Homo sapiens: one gene and its partner. The protein of the gene in region 2 purifies or fractionates together with the protein of the main gene of each other region. This does not show direct contact. Each region holds a gene or a part of one and is shown on either strand. Other genes may lie near its edges.

Region 1 (4,365 bases), on a different chromosome or scaffold from region 2:
ATCAGCTAGTGAATGGGGAGCAGGAGGGAAGTGGCACCTGAGAATGATAAACAGGAAGTGTTTAAAAAGAAGTTAGGCTAGGCCGGGCGTGGTGGCTCACACCTGTAATCTCAGCACTTTGGGAGACCAAGACGGGTGAATCGCGAGGTCAGGAGATCGAGACCATCCTGGCTAACACAGCAAAACCCCATCTCTACTAAAAATACAAAAAAAAATTAGCTGGGTGTGGTGGCAGATGCCTGTAATCCCAGCTACTTGGGAGGCTGAGGCAGGAGAACCGCTTGAACCTGGGAGGCAGAGGTTGCAGTGAGCTGAGATCCCACCACTGCACTCCAGCCTGGGCGACAGTGAGACTCGTCTCAAGTTAGGCTGGGCACGGTGGCTTACAGCTGTAATCCCAGCACTTTGGGAGGCCCAGGCAGGCGGATCACCTAAGGTCAGGAGTTCAAAACCAGCCCGGCCAACATGGTGAAACCCTGTCTCTACTAAAAATGCAATAATTAGCCAGGCGTGGTGGTGGGCACCTGTAATCCCAGCTACTCGAGAGGCTGAGGCAGAAGAATTGCTCGAACCTGGGAGGTGGAGGTTGCAGTGAGCCGAGATAGCACCAATGCACTCCAGCCTGGGTGACAGAGCGAGACTGCATCTCAAATAAATAAATTAAAAATATAAAAAGTTTAAAAAGCACCTGTGACTTGAGTCTATTTATTTTCAGTTGTTTTACTCAGCTAAGGAAAATAAAGGTAGAAACTTTGTTTTTAAGAGCTTCTGAAAAGGACATAGCCCCTCCTCCTGAAGAATGCCTTCAGCTCCTCAGCAGAGCCACCCAGGTGTTCAGAGAGCAGTACATTCTCAAACAGGACTTGGCAAAGGAGGAGATTCAGCGGAGGTATGATGTCCTGTGTTCACAAACCATCGATCCCTGGCTGGTAGCTGATGCTGTATGGTAGCCTAGACCTGGCTTCTGAATAAACTCTATTTCTTTTTGTTTTTAAAGGGTCAAATTATTATGTGACCAAAAAAAGAAACAACTAGAAGATCTCAGTTATTGTCGAGAAGAGAGGTAAGTGTCAAAAATAAGAAGAATACAATAGGTCAGTAAGACTGGAACCATATTCTCACCCTAAGATGCTGAGCCACATTAGGTGGTTTCAGCATCAAGGGGTGGACCTCAAGAGTCTCTTGTGTCTTACATCATTAGGAAAAGTCTGCGGGAAATGGCTGAGCGTTTAGCTGACAAATATGAGGAAGCTAAAGAAAAACAAGAGGATATCATGAACAGGTCAGTGGGCTGTATAACATTTAGTTACCTAGTCAGGTACTAACAACGATATTTAAGAAAATGGGCATTGGCAGGTGCTTACATACCTACGGAACTGAACTGATCCCCCTGCCTCTCCTCTGAAGTATATGTTGGGGAAAACATGAGGCTCTCCCCTAACCCTTCCTATGGGGCCTACTTCAGAAACACCAGATTCATGAATTATGAGCTTGTGATTATGTTTCTCCTAATTAGTAGAGACCTTAAATTGAGATGTTTGCTTGCCTTTTCTAAAGGATGAAAAAACTACTTCACAGTTTTCACTCTGAGCTCCCAGTTCTCTCTGATAGTGAGCGAGACATGAAGAAAGAATTACAGCTGATACCTGATCAACTTCGACATTTGGGCAATGCCATCAAACAGGTAGGAATAGATCCAAACTAGCTAAATTTGGTAATTTTTCTTAAAGCACTTATTCTACAGAAAATTTTACAAAAATGTAAAAAGAACAGATTCAAATAGATACTGTGAAAATGTGTGGCAAACCACTGCCAAAATATCTATTATTTTAATACTTAAGGTTACTATGAAAAAGGATTATCAACAGCAAAAGATGGAGAAGGTGTTGAGTCTTCCAAAACCCACCATTATTCTCAGTGCCTACCAGCGAAAGTGCATTCAGTCCATCCTGAAAGAGGAGTAAGTAAATACTTCCAATCAGCTATTATCGTGAGATAGTTTTTCCTTTACAGTATGCCAGAATCAACCTGTCTTAATAGAAACCTGAATCTTGGTATTTGCATGTCAAGTAATTACTGGGATGAGAGCCACATGATACATAGGGACTTAAGAAATGACTATGGTGGGAGGATTGAAAGGGATGACCTTCTAGTAACATGATTTTGTTGTGTGGCCAAAGGTATTTTACAGTAATTATGTTCAAAAATATTTCCAGTACTTGCACCGTTTGCCACCTTAAATGAATAGTGAACACTATTGCTATCCACCTGAAACCTTCAGCTGTTAATTTTAGCAAAGCAGTTCTTAGATGTTTCAACATTACCAGTTTAAATTCTTAAGAATCCATATAAATGGTTTATTATAATTCCAAAAGTGAGTGACTTTACAATTTTACAGGGGTGAACATATAAGGGAAATGGTGAAGCAAATCAATGATATCCGCAATCATGTAAACTTCTGACACCACCAGGAGCTGACTCACACCTGAACTGAACACCATTGAAGGCTTAAACCCATATTGTAAAACAGGTAGAATTATCTAATTTATAAAAAGGTGTTTTGATGACCTTTGGTGTGGTTCATCTTTTTAAATATGTTGTTTTATAATAATTGAGTAAATGCTTTTATTTAAAATTTGGAATGTGCTTTATAACTCAAGCCTACAGTTGTGTTCAGCAAGGACTCAGGATTATTTCACACTGCACACTGCCAGAACCTCCCTGAACCCTATTGAGTTTTCTCCATATTTGAGCAAGTTAGTTATTCTTGTGAGCTGTGTTTTAAAGTAGCAGCACCAGAAACATGACTCTGAAGAGGGATAGAACCCTAGGATTCAAAGGAGAAGACCACACAGTGTACTTGGCAGCAGCTTTTTTAATTTGAACACTTTCTTCTTGAGGACACACCTTCAGTACAGTTAACAAATGGTTACACCTGAAATCTGCTGAGAGCAGAGCTCAAGATCCACAATTGCAAAGGCCACTGCTGGCTCACTTCCTCACAAGCTGTATTACCTTTCAGAGCTGAGTGAGGCTGTGCTCTACGTCCCAATACTTGTTACTGAGTGGACATGAGGTGCAAGTTTAGCACCTTAAAGGGAGAAAAAAATAGGTTAGTATGCAGAATGTGATTTTGTCCTCACTTCACCTTAAGTCATCTTTTTACACTTGCCAATGTGAGTTCTGAAAGGTACTACTATATCTGCTTAGAAATGGCTGAGTGACTGTCAATTAAAAGCCACATGATAAGGTAGGTTACAGGTAAGAGGTAAATCAGGTTAGACATGCATGAGAACATGTAGGCACAGACTGAATATAAGCACAGGAACACTCGTGAAACCCAACTGAGCTTTTCTTTTGCCTAGAAGGGCTAAATCCTGCCTTCTACATCAGTTCCCATTTATGCTGAAAACCCAGTTGAAAGAATTGTTTCCTACCTGGACAGTGACACAGTAGTTTGTTTCATACCAGAAACACATTGCTAAACAAAACTTAAGAGTCTCAGTTTGGGTTTTTCTACAATAAAGTGAATTCCAACAGTTGGCATTTGCCACAGTAGAGACCACTAACCATTCCCTAATTGTGATGATTTTATTACCCAGCACCATCTTCTGGAGAAAAATATCTGTAAGGTGCTCAGTCTCAGCAGAACACTTCACTGCAAGCTCTAGTTCAGTCAGTTCAGAAAGGCTGTGAATTGCCCACCCTGATTTACAGCACTAATTTTAATAATCTGAAGACAAATTCGCTTGGGGCTTATCCAAGGGACTAGTCTTAAACCTACGTAATTTAAATTGATTGCATTTTATAATTAATAAAATCCCCTGTAACTCAATAGTTATATGTTTCCTTTATCTAAACCATGTAGCACTCTTTATAAAGGGACTTTAAACCAATTAAAATAATGTTTCATGTGCGGCAAGCCTTTAGTACTATTTCCATAATTGGTATTTATTTTTAAATTCATAACCATGAATGCAAGACTACAATAATAACCCAAGAGATGAGGTATGTAGTACTTATCATTTGTCCTATGGAAGACAGAAGTACAGAAGATCTTTAGGGTAAGTCCATAGTGACCTCATTTATAACAAAGACAATTCACTTTAAGTTGATGGTGGCGTTATGTGAACAAAACAATCTACCTAGTTCACTAACTCCCAGAAGGCTCTTTCAGGTACCCTGCTGTTATGCAACCAGTCTCAAAAATGATTTGAAAACCATCTTACTTTTGAACCTCCTGGATGATGAATCCATCCACTGGATATTCCTGGGACAGTACTCTCAGCAGGTATTGATGAACATGAATCAATTCTTTGTGCTTTCTGTAGCACTTCATAAAGTTATGGCAAAGACCTGTTTCAC
Region 2 (7,035 bases):
CTAATTTTTTGGTATGTAAAACATTTATATGGCCCCCAAGTCAAAACTGTGTAAAAAGGCATATTCATAGAAGTCTTGCTTCTATCCCAATTCTATGTGCCCCATTCCTATCCATCCTCTATTTTCATTAATTTCTAGTTTATCCCATGTGTACTTCATTTAAAAAAATAAGGAATTACAGTTTTTCAGAACTATAATACACATACTGTGCGTTAAGCAACACCCATACAACAGCTTTTATATGAGTTTGGTCATGGAGCATACAACTGACATGTATCACGTTTTCTACTTGCAATAAATACACAGAGTGGCATACAAGCAAACTCCCACCTGAATTCCGATCAATCCACTGCAGGGAGTCCATATGGGCATTCAGAATTCTGCAGATCTGGTGGAGCTAAAAATACATATAAGACTTTTAGATTATGATTATTCTGAGGTGGTAAATAAAAAATAAACATAAGAAATTGACATTAGGAAGTGACTTTTAATTTCTTCTGGTAAGAAATGGACTGAGAATTACTAAATACTAATTTTTTTGTTGCTAATTCATATTTGCAATGTTCATTATCTTTATATATTGGTTCAATTTAATTATTTGTAACTATCATGAATTGGATACCTACAATTCAATAAGAAACTGACTACCACAGTATAAAGAACATTAAGACACATTTCACAAGACAATGAATTCACATAAAAAAATTAAAAATAGCACCAGTTGTCAACCAAATCAGCAATTTTTTAAAAATGGTCTTACTCAGTTATCGAGTGTGTGGGAAAAAATAGTTACATTCATATATAGCCAATAGTAATATAAATTGACCCAACCTTTCAAAATGTAAATTTTTATGATACATATCAAAAGCTTTAAAATATTCATACCTTTTGACTCAGTCAGTATATTCTATTTCCGTTATCCAGAGGAGATAATCAAATCTAAATATAAGTGGTGATTACTGGACTATTTTATATTGGCTAAAGATTGGAAACAATATCTCTACCAATCAAAAAATGATTAAATAGATCATGGTAAAGTCAACCCTGATGAAACATTATAGTACCATTAAAACTCATGTTTTCAAAGAATGGTTAAAATTTTTGGGAAAGACCATGAAAGAATATTAAGTGAAGATAGAATACAAAAAGTTATATAGTTTCCAGTACTCTTTAATACAAAAGAAGTATTTTTAGCAGCATAGCAAAAAAGACTAGAAAGAAATACACCAGTATATTATCAGGGTACTGTTAATATAGATGACTTAATTTTCCTTATGGATTTTGTAAGAAAATGTGACTGAATAACACAGTGCATAATATGAACTTACTTAATAAAACTTTTAGACATTAGGTGGTCTTTCCCATTGCCGCTCACAAAAAAAGGGGGAATAAAAATAGATAAATCTCATCACCGTGAATACTGGAACACATAGCTCCTATTTTTCTACCCTAGTATATGACCCAGAGTAATAAAGCTTTGTTAATCCGGTTAAAATAAATTATCTACAGGAATATTATTGTTCAGAAAATGTTTTTCCCGTTTCTTGTCCAAGGATTTATGCTATCTGCAAAAAGAGCTGTCAGTGATCTCTTTCTTCTTTTATTCTGCAATCAAACAGCAATTACCCTTTAATTGACTCATCTTAAACATCCCAATCACCCCTGCCAGGAAAACAAAAAGACTCAAACCATTTACTACCCACTACTAAAATAAAATAAAACAATCCAGGGCTAAGTAGAGAAAATGGACAAAGACAGAATTATAGTCTCCTTTTAGTTACTTGATTGAGAACACTCCACTTATATTAATTCAACACAGAGAAACTAGAAATCAACTCTGCTGAATGTCTAAATCTGCATATATTTACCTATGCACCAAAATTCTATTACAACAAAACAATTTTGAATTTTGGAATTACAATGGTAATCTAATATTTCATTAAGAGAAAATCTGTATTTTGTAAACTCTTGATCATTTGTGTGAACACAGGGACATGGTAGCATGAATAATTTCAGATTAATTTATATTTGTCTTTGTTCAACTTTAGATTCACCCAAAGTACAGAATGGCATAATTTTTATAGCGGGAAGGGACCTACAGATCATTTAGTCTATCCTTGACATTTTGCAAAAAGAAGGAGCCAAGACCCAGAGAGATTAAATGACTTAAACAAAATTCTAATACTTTCTCAGCTATAACACACTGTATCTTCATAATTTAAAAAATGGTAATGTGTATGTAGATAAAGAACTGTCTGTATATAATTGAACAAAGAGCTTACTAAAGAATAATCACCACTTACATATATGTCATTCATCTTCACCTACCCGATCCTGGCCTCACTCCTGATTATGATTAACTGATAGAAAGCACAATGGGAACTCCCACAATGGGAGATCCCTCTTACTACTACTGCCACAGAGTGGGAGCGGGAAAAGGAGGACTCCATTTAGCTGCTAAGACAACAGGGAAAGGTACAGGAAATAAGCTGTTTAATCAGAGTATAGAGAAAGAAAAAAAAAACAATTCTTTCTTACTGCCAAATTAATTCACAGCACCTTAACTCTAATTGGAGCCTCAGCTGTAATTCCACTGATATAATACATTTATTATGAGCTAAATAGTATTCTGTGGGGGCAGGTGTAAACCTAATAACCATATTTCACCAAGTTTCTATAGAAAAATGTAAAGTCTCAAATAGTCAACCTAACAAATTTTAAAATACAATCTAACCATAAATTAAGGATTGCCTGGTTGTGTTGAACAGACACAAGCATACCTACTAACACTTATATAAGTATGTAAACAAATATGTAAAAAGAAGAATGAACTGGCTAGTAAGTGAACAGAAAAATAAATACAGGTACATACTTAGTTATGTGAAGAATAAGGGAGAAAAGCATGACAACTTAGGGAAGAGTAATATTTTCACCTTCCTGGGAATAACCACAAAAAACTCACAACCTTTTCTGCCTCTAGATGTTTCCTGCTCCACTAACCACACCCAAGGGGCTTCATATTTCTAGAGGCAGGAAGAAACACTATAGAAGACGGAAAAAAGGGACTAGCTTAAAAGAACCACAGAATGCTAATTTCTTTCTAGAGACAGGATCTCACTCTGTCACCCAGGCTAGAGCACAGTGGTGCAAGCATAGCTCACTGCAGCTTTCAACTCCTGGGCTCAAGTGATCCTCTCACCTCAGCCTCCAGAGTAGGTAGGACTATAGGTATGTACCACCATGCCCAGATAGATTTTTTCATTTTTGATAGAGACAGGGTCTCACTATGTTGCCCAGGCTGGTCTCAAACTCTTGGCCTAAAACAGTTCTCTTGCCTCGGCCTACCGAAGTGCTGGGGTTATAGGCATGAGCCACCATACCTGGCTGTATGCTAATTTCATACTAAATCTTGGTTGCCTAAGTACACAAAGCAGTAAACACACCGGATCAGTAGTGTCAGAAGAACTTTCAAATGTATTCAGGTGATTAACAACGTCCTTGAGATCTTGGGCCATTTGTTTCAGCTGAGCATCTATACTTTCTGCTAATCTGTAACTGAAAAGGCAAGTAAAATAAAGGGATTAACAAAAAGTGTTTTCTCCACTACCTATTGTTATTGATATATAAACATGACACTACCAATTGGATTTGCCCTAATTCCCCTGTCTTTTCAGTGGAGCTCAGTTATGACTACTGATATATTTTCATGGATGCAGCATTTGTGACGTTATTATTACCATGTTCTAAAAAGACTCCAAATGAGAAGACTTTTATCTACCTTGCCTTTTTACCTTCACCTATTTATCCTCTAGGTGAATACCCTGGGGATCTGTAGAGCAAAGGAATCCTTTAAGGTGTCAAAATACACCTATAGCACATTTACATACAAAAGAGAAGTTATTTAGGGTTTGGCAATATTCAATAGATGCTGAGATGTCTTCAATGATCTTGAATACACAAATTTTCAAAATAAAACCTCATATAAATATACTTCATCAGGCAAAAAAGATGTTTTGAGAAATGAGCTTCACAATAATCAAAGATAGACAAACCTGCTAAGTTCACAAGTTAGTTGCCTAAATTCTCGAGATTTCCACCCAAACCACACACACACACACACACACACACACACACGACCCAGTCAATAAATATGTTTATGAGAATTAAAGTGGCCAGAGGATTTTTCAACCTTAATGTGTATAAAGATTGAAAGAGTCAATTAGATTTGTAGGTAACAACTATCTACTGCCTTTCTATGGCATAGTACTTATGCCATAGAATTGGTTGCCTACATTATTGAAGATTCTGGTAAATATTTCATCACAATACAAATCTGGGCCGGGCGCGGTGGCTCATGCCTGTAATCCCAGCACTTTGGGAGCCCGAGGGGAGTGGATCATGAAGTCAGGAGTTCGAGACCAGCCTGGCCAACATGGTGAAACCCGGTCCCTACTAAAAATACAAAAAATTAGCTGGGTGTGGTGGCGCATGCCTGTAATCCCAGCTACTCAGGACGCTGAGGCAGAAGAATCGCTTGAACCCAGGAGGCAGAGGTTGCAGTGAGCCGAGATCGTGCCACTGCATTCCAGCCTGGGCGACAGAGCAAGACTTCATCTTGAATATATATATATATTCAGATATATATATATATATATATATATATTCAGATATATATATATATATTCAGATATATATATATATTCAGATATATATATATATTCAGATATATATATATTCAGATATATATATATATATTCAGATATATATATATTCAGATATATATATATATATGACTACAAAGGAGCAACTGGAAAGGAACTAATGTCATGAAGATTTCTTCAAACTACAGTTAGGATCTTATGGCCAAAAATGTAACTCTATATGTTTCAAAAAAATGATAGAATGCATAGAAAGCAATACAAAGAAAAGAAAAATTCACAAAGGTTGAAATACAAAAGCAGAAACTGATTTAGGTTAGTATAGATTAGTTGTACTTACCACATTTAATGCGCCTACAAAAAAGTTAACTTGCAAGCATGTTAAAAACAGGCCCAGTCTTAACTCATAATAAGTCATTGATAAAATGTGTCCAATTTAGTCTCAATCTAGATTATGTTGTTCATTCATACAAATTCTAATACTTAATAAATTGGCCAATTACCAAACCTCAGTTCCAGAGAAATAAAGTTACTTTGGGAATACTGGCACTGTATTGACAGAAGGTAAAGACTGAAGAGTTCACAAATAAAATATAGCCCTCCTAAGACATTGACAAAATCACTCCATTTTTGAAAGCTATACAGTTTGCCTCCAGATTAACAAATTGCCTTTAAAATAGCAAATGATTTATCACTAAAGCAATTGCATGACTATTAGTTTTAGCAGAATCAACATAAAGAGGAGACCATAAATATCCCACAATACCATGACACCATACACATAAAATTTGTACTTCTAATTTAAGAACAAATTTGACAAATACAAAAACTTTACAGTGAACATGCATAAGGTTGACAGTAATAACAGTAAACAAAATGCTATAAAACAAAATTGCCAGAATGATTTCCTCATTTACAAGCATCCAGAAAAGATAACCAGAAAACAATCAAACAAATTGATAAATGTCAACTACAAAAGCTTGTCCCTTTCTACCGATTTGTATTCCTTGCCTTCCAATTCGACTTTTCCCCTCTGTTCCTGGAATGCTCTCAGAATACGTAAGTCCTGCCCCATTCTTCAATCTTTTTTCAGTTACTTACATCTCCACATGCTCCTCATCTGCATCCTGCAGATAATGAAGTCCACTCTGGTCACGCGTAGACTCCTCTAAATAAGTCAACAGAAATTCTAGTTCCTGCTGCTGTGACAGGATAAAATCCAATTCTTGTTCCAATCTGAATAAAATAAGTTAATAAAAAGGCTGATGAAAGGAATTTGGAGTGACAAAAAGAAAAGAGTTAACAAACTACAGAAGGAAAAAAAAAACACTGAATAAAAAGATAGGTCTTTAATCTTTCAACCAAGGAAATCTAAGGTTCTACCTTTTCTGATCCAGTTTCACTTTGTTCACTTCTCCATGTAAAATACGAATCTATAAAGAGAAATATGAATACAACAATATAAGTATTTGAATTTATATAACAATTTTAGAGCAATATTAATTTTCTCAAATACACTTCAAATATGAAAGATTTCCTTTTATTCAGGGTACTTATTGCCTAAGGAATATACTTTGAGCTGCTCACCAATATTGGAATAGAAAATTAACCACAGGGCTGGGTATGGTGGCTCATGCCTATAATCCCAGCACTTTGGGAGGCTGAGGCAGGAGGATCACTTGAGCCTAGGAGTTTGAGACCAGACTGGACAACGCAGTGGGACCCTATCCCTACTGAAAAAACACACACACAGTTAGCTGGGGGTGCTGGTGTGCCCCTGTGGTCCCAGCTACTTAGGAGGCTGAGGTGGGAGAATTGCTTGAGCCAGGGAGATCGAGGCTGCAGTGAGCTGTAATTGCACCACTGTGCTCCAGCCTAGGTGATAGAGCAAGACCCTGTCTCAAAAAACAAAAACATAAACAAAACAACAACAACAAAGAAAACCACAAAACACAGGTCTATTTTCTTGTGTTCATCTGCAAATACTTGCACAATGTAGGTAGATTAATGAAAATATTTTCTTACCATCTCACCATTCTCAATCAATGTATGGTCCCAAGCATTGACCTGAGTGGCCTGGAGAAGAAAGTACTTCTCTTGATCTTCCAGCTCAAGGTTCCACTCATTTATAAGACCCTCCAGATGACCATATGTCATCACAGGAGTTGCTACTACACTAAAACATAAAAAGATGCAGGATGATCCAATAATCATACTTTAAAAAGTGTGATCAGATTTTAAAAACGAACACAGGAGGACTCTGAGAAGAAAACAGCATGTAAGGAATTTCCCATACCTGCTTCCCAAGAAAACAAACATAACTGGTAAAGATGATTAAAAAAAACAACCCCTCAAAGTCACTTGAAATTATCCTAGG

What was found.
Region 1: the proteins of NUP62CL (region 2) and NUP88 purify together in Homo sapiens (affinity purification with mass spectrometry; 2 studies listed by BioGRID and IntAct, with this or other methods). This does not show direct contact.

What each region holds. Positions count from the first base shown.
Region 1 is NC_000017.11:5,384,303-5,388,667, reverse strand, and holds the end of NUP88 (nuclear pore complex protein Nup88), read left to right. Parts: intron 1-715; coding exon of another isoform or gene 716-763; coding exon 764-889; intron 890-997; coding exon 998-1,063; intron 1,064-1,201; coding exon 1,202-1,282; intron 1,283-1,557; coding exon 1,558-1,684; intron 1,685-1,841; coding exon 1,842-1,960; intron 1,961-2,327; exon of another isoform or gene 2,328-2,398; coding exon 2,399-2,462; 3' UTR 2,463-3,835; downstream 3,836-4,365. UniProt on the Homo sapiens protein: Component of nuclear pore complex.
Region 2 is NC_000023.11:107,147,413-107,154,447, forward strand, and holds part of NUP62CL (nucleoporin-62 C-terminal-like protein), read right to left. Parts: intron 6,835-7,035; coding exon 6,684-6,834; intron 6,092-6,683; coding exon 6,042-6,091; intron 5,895-6,041; coding exon 5,760-5,894; intron 398-5,759; coding exon 373-397; 3' UTR 331-372; intron 1-330.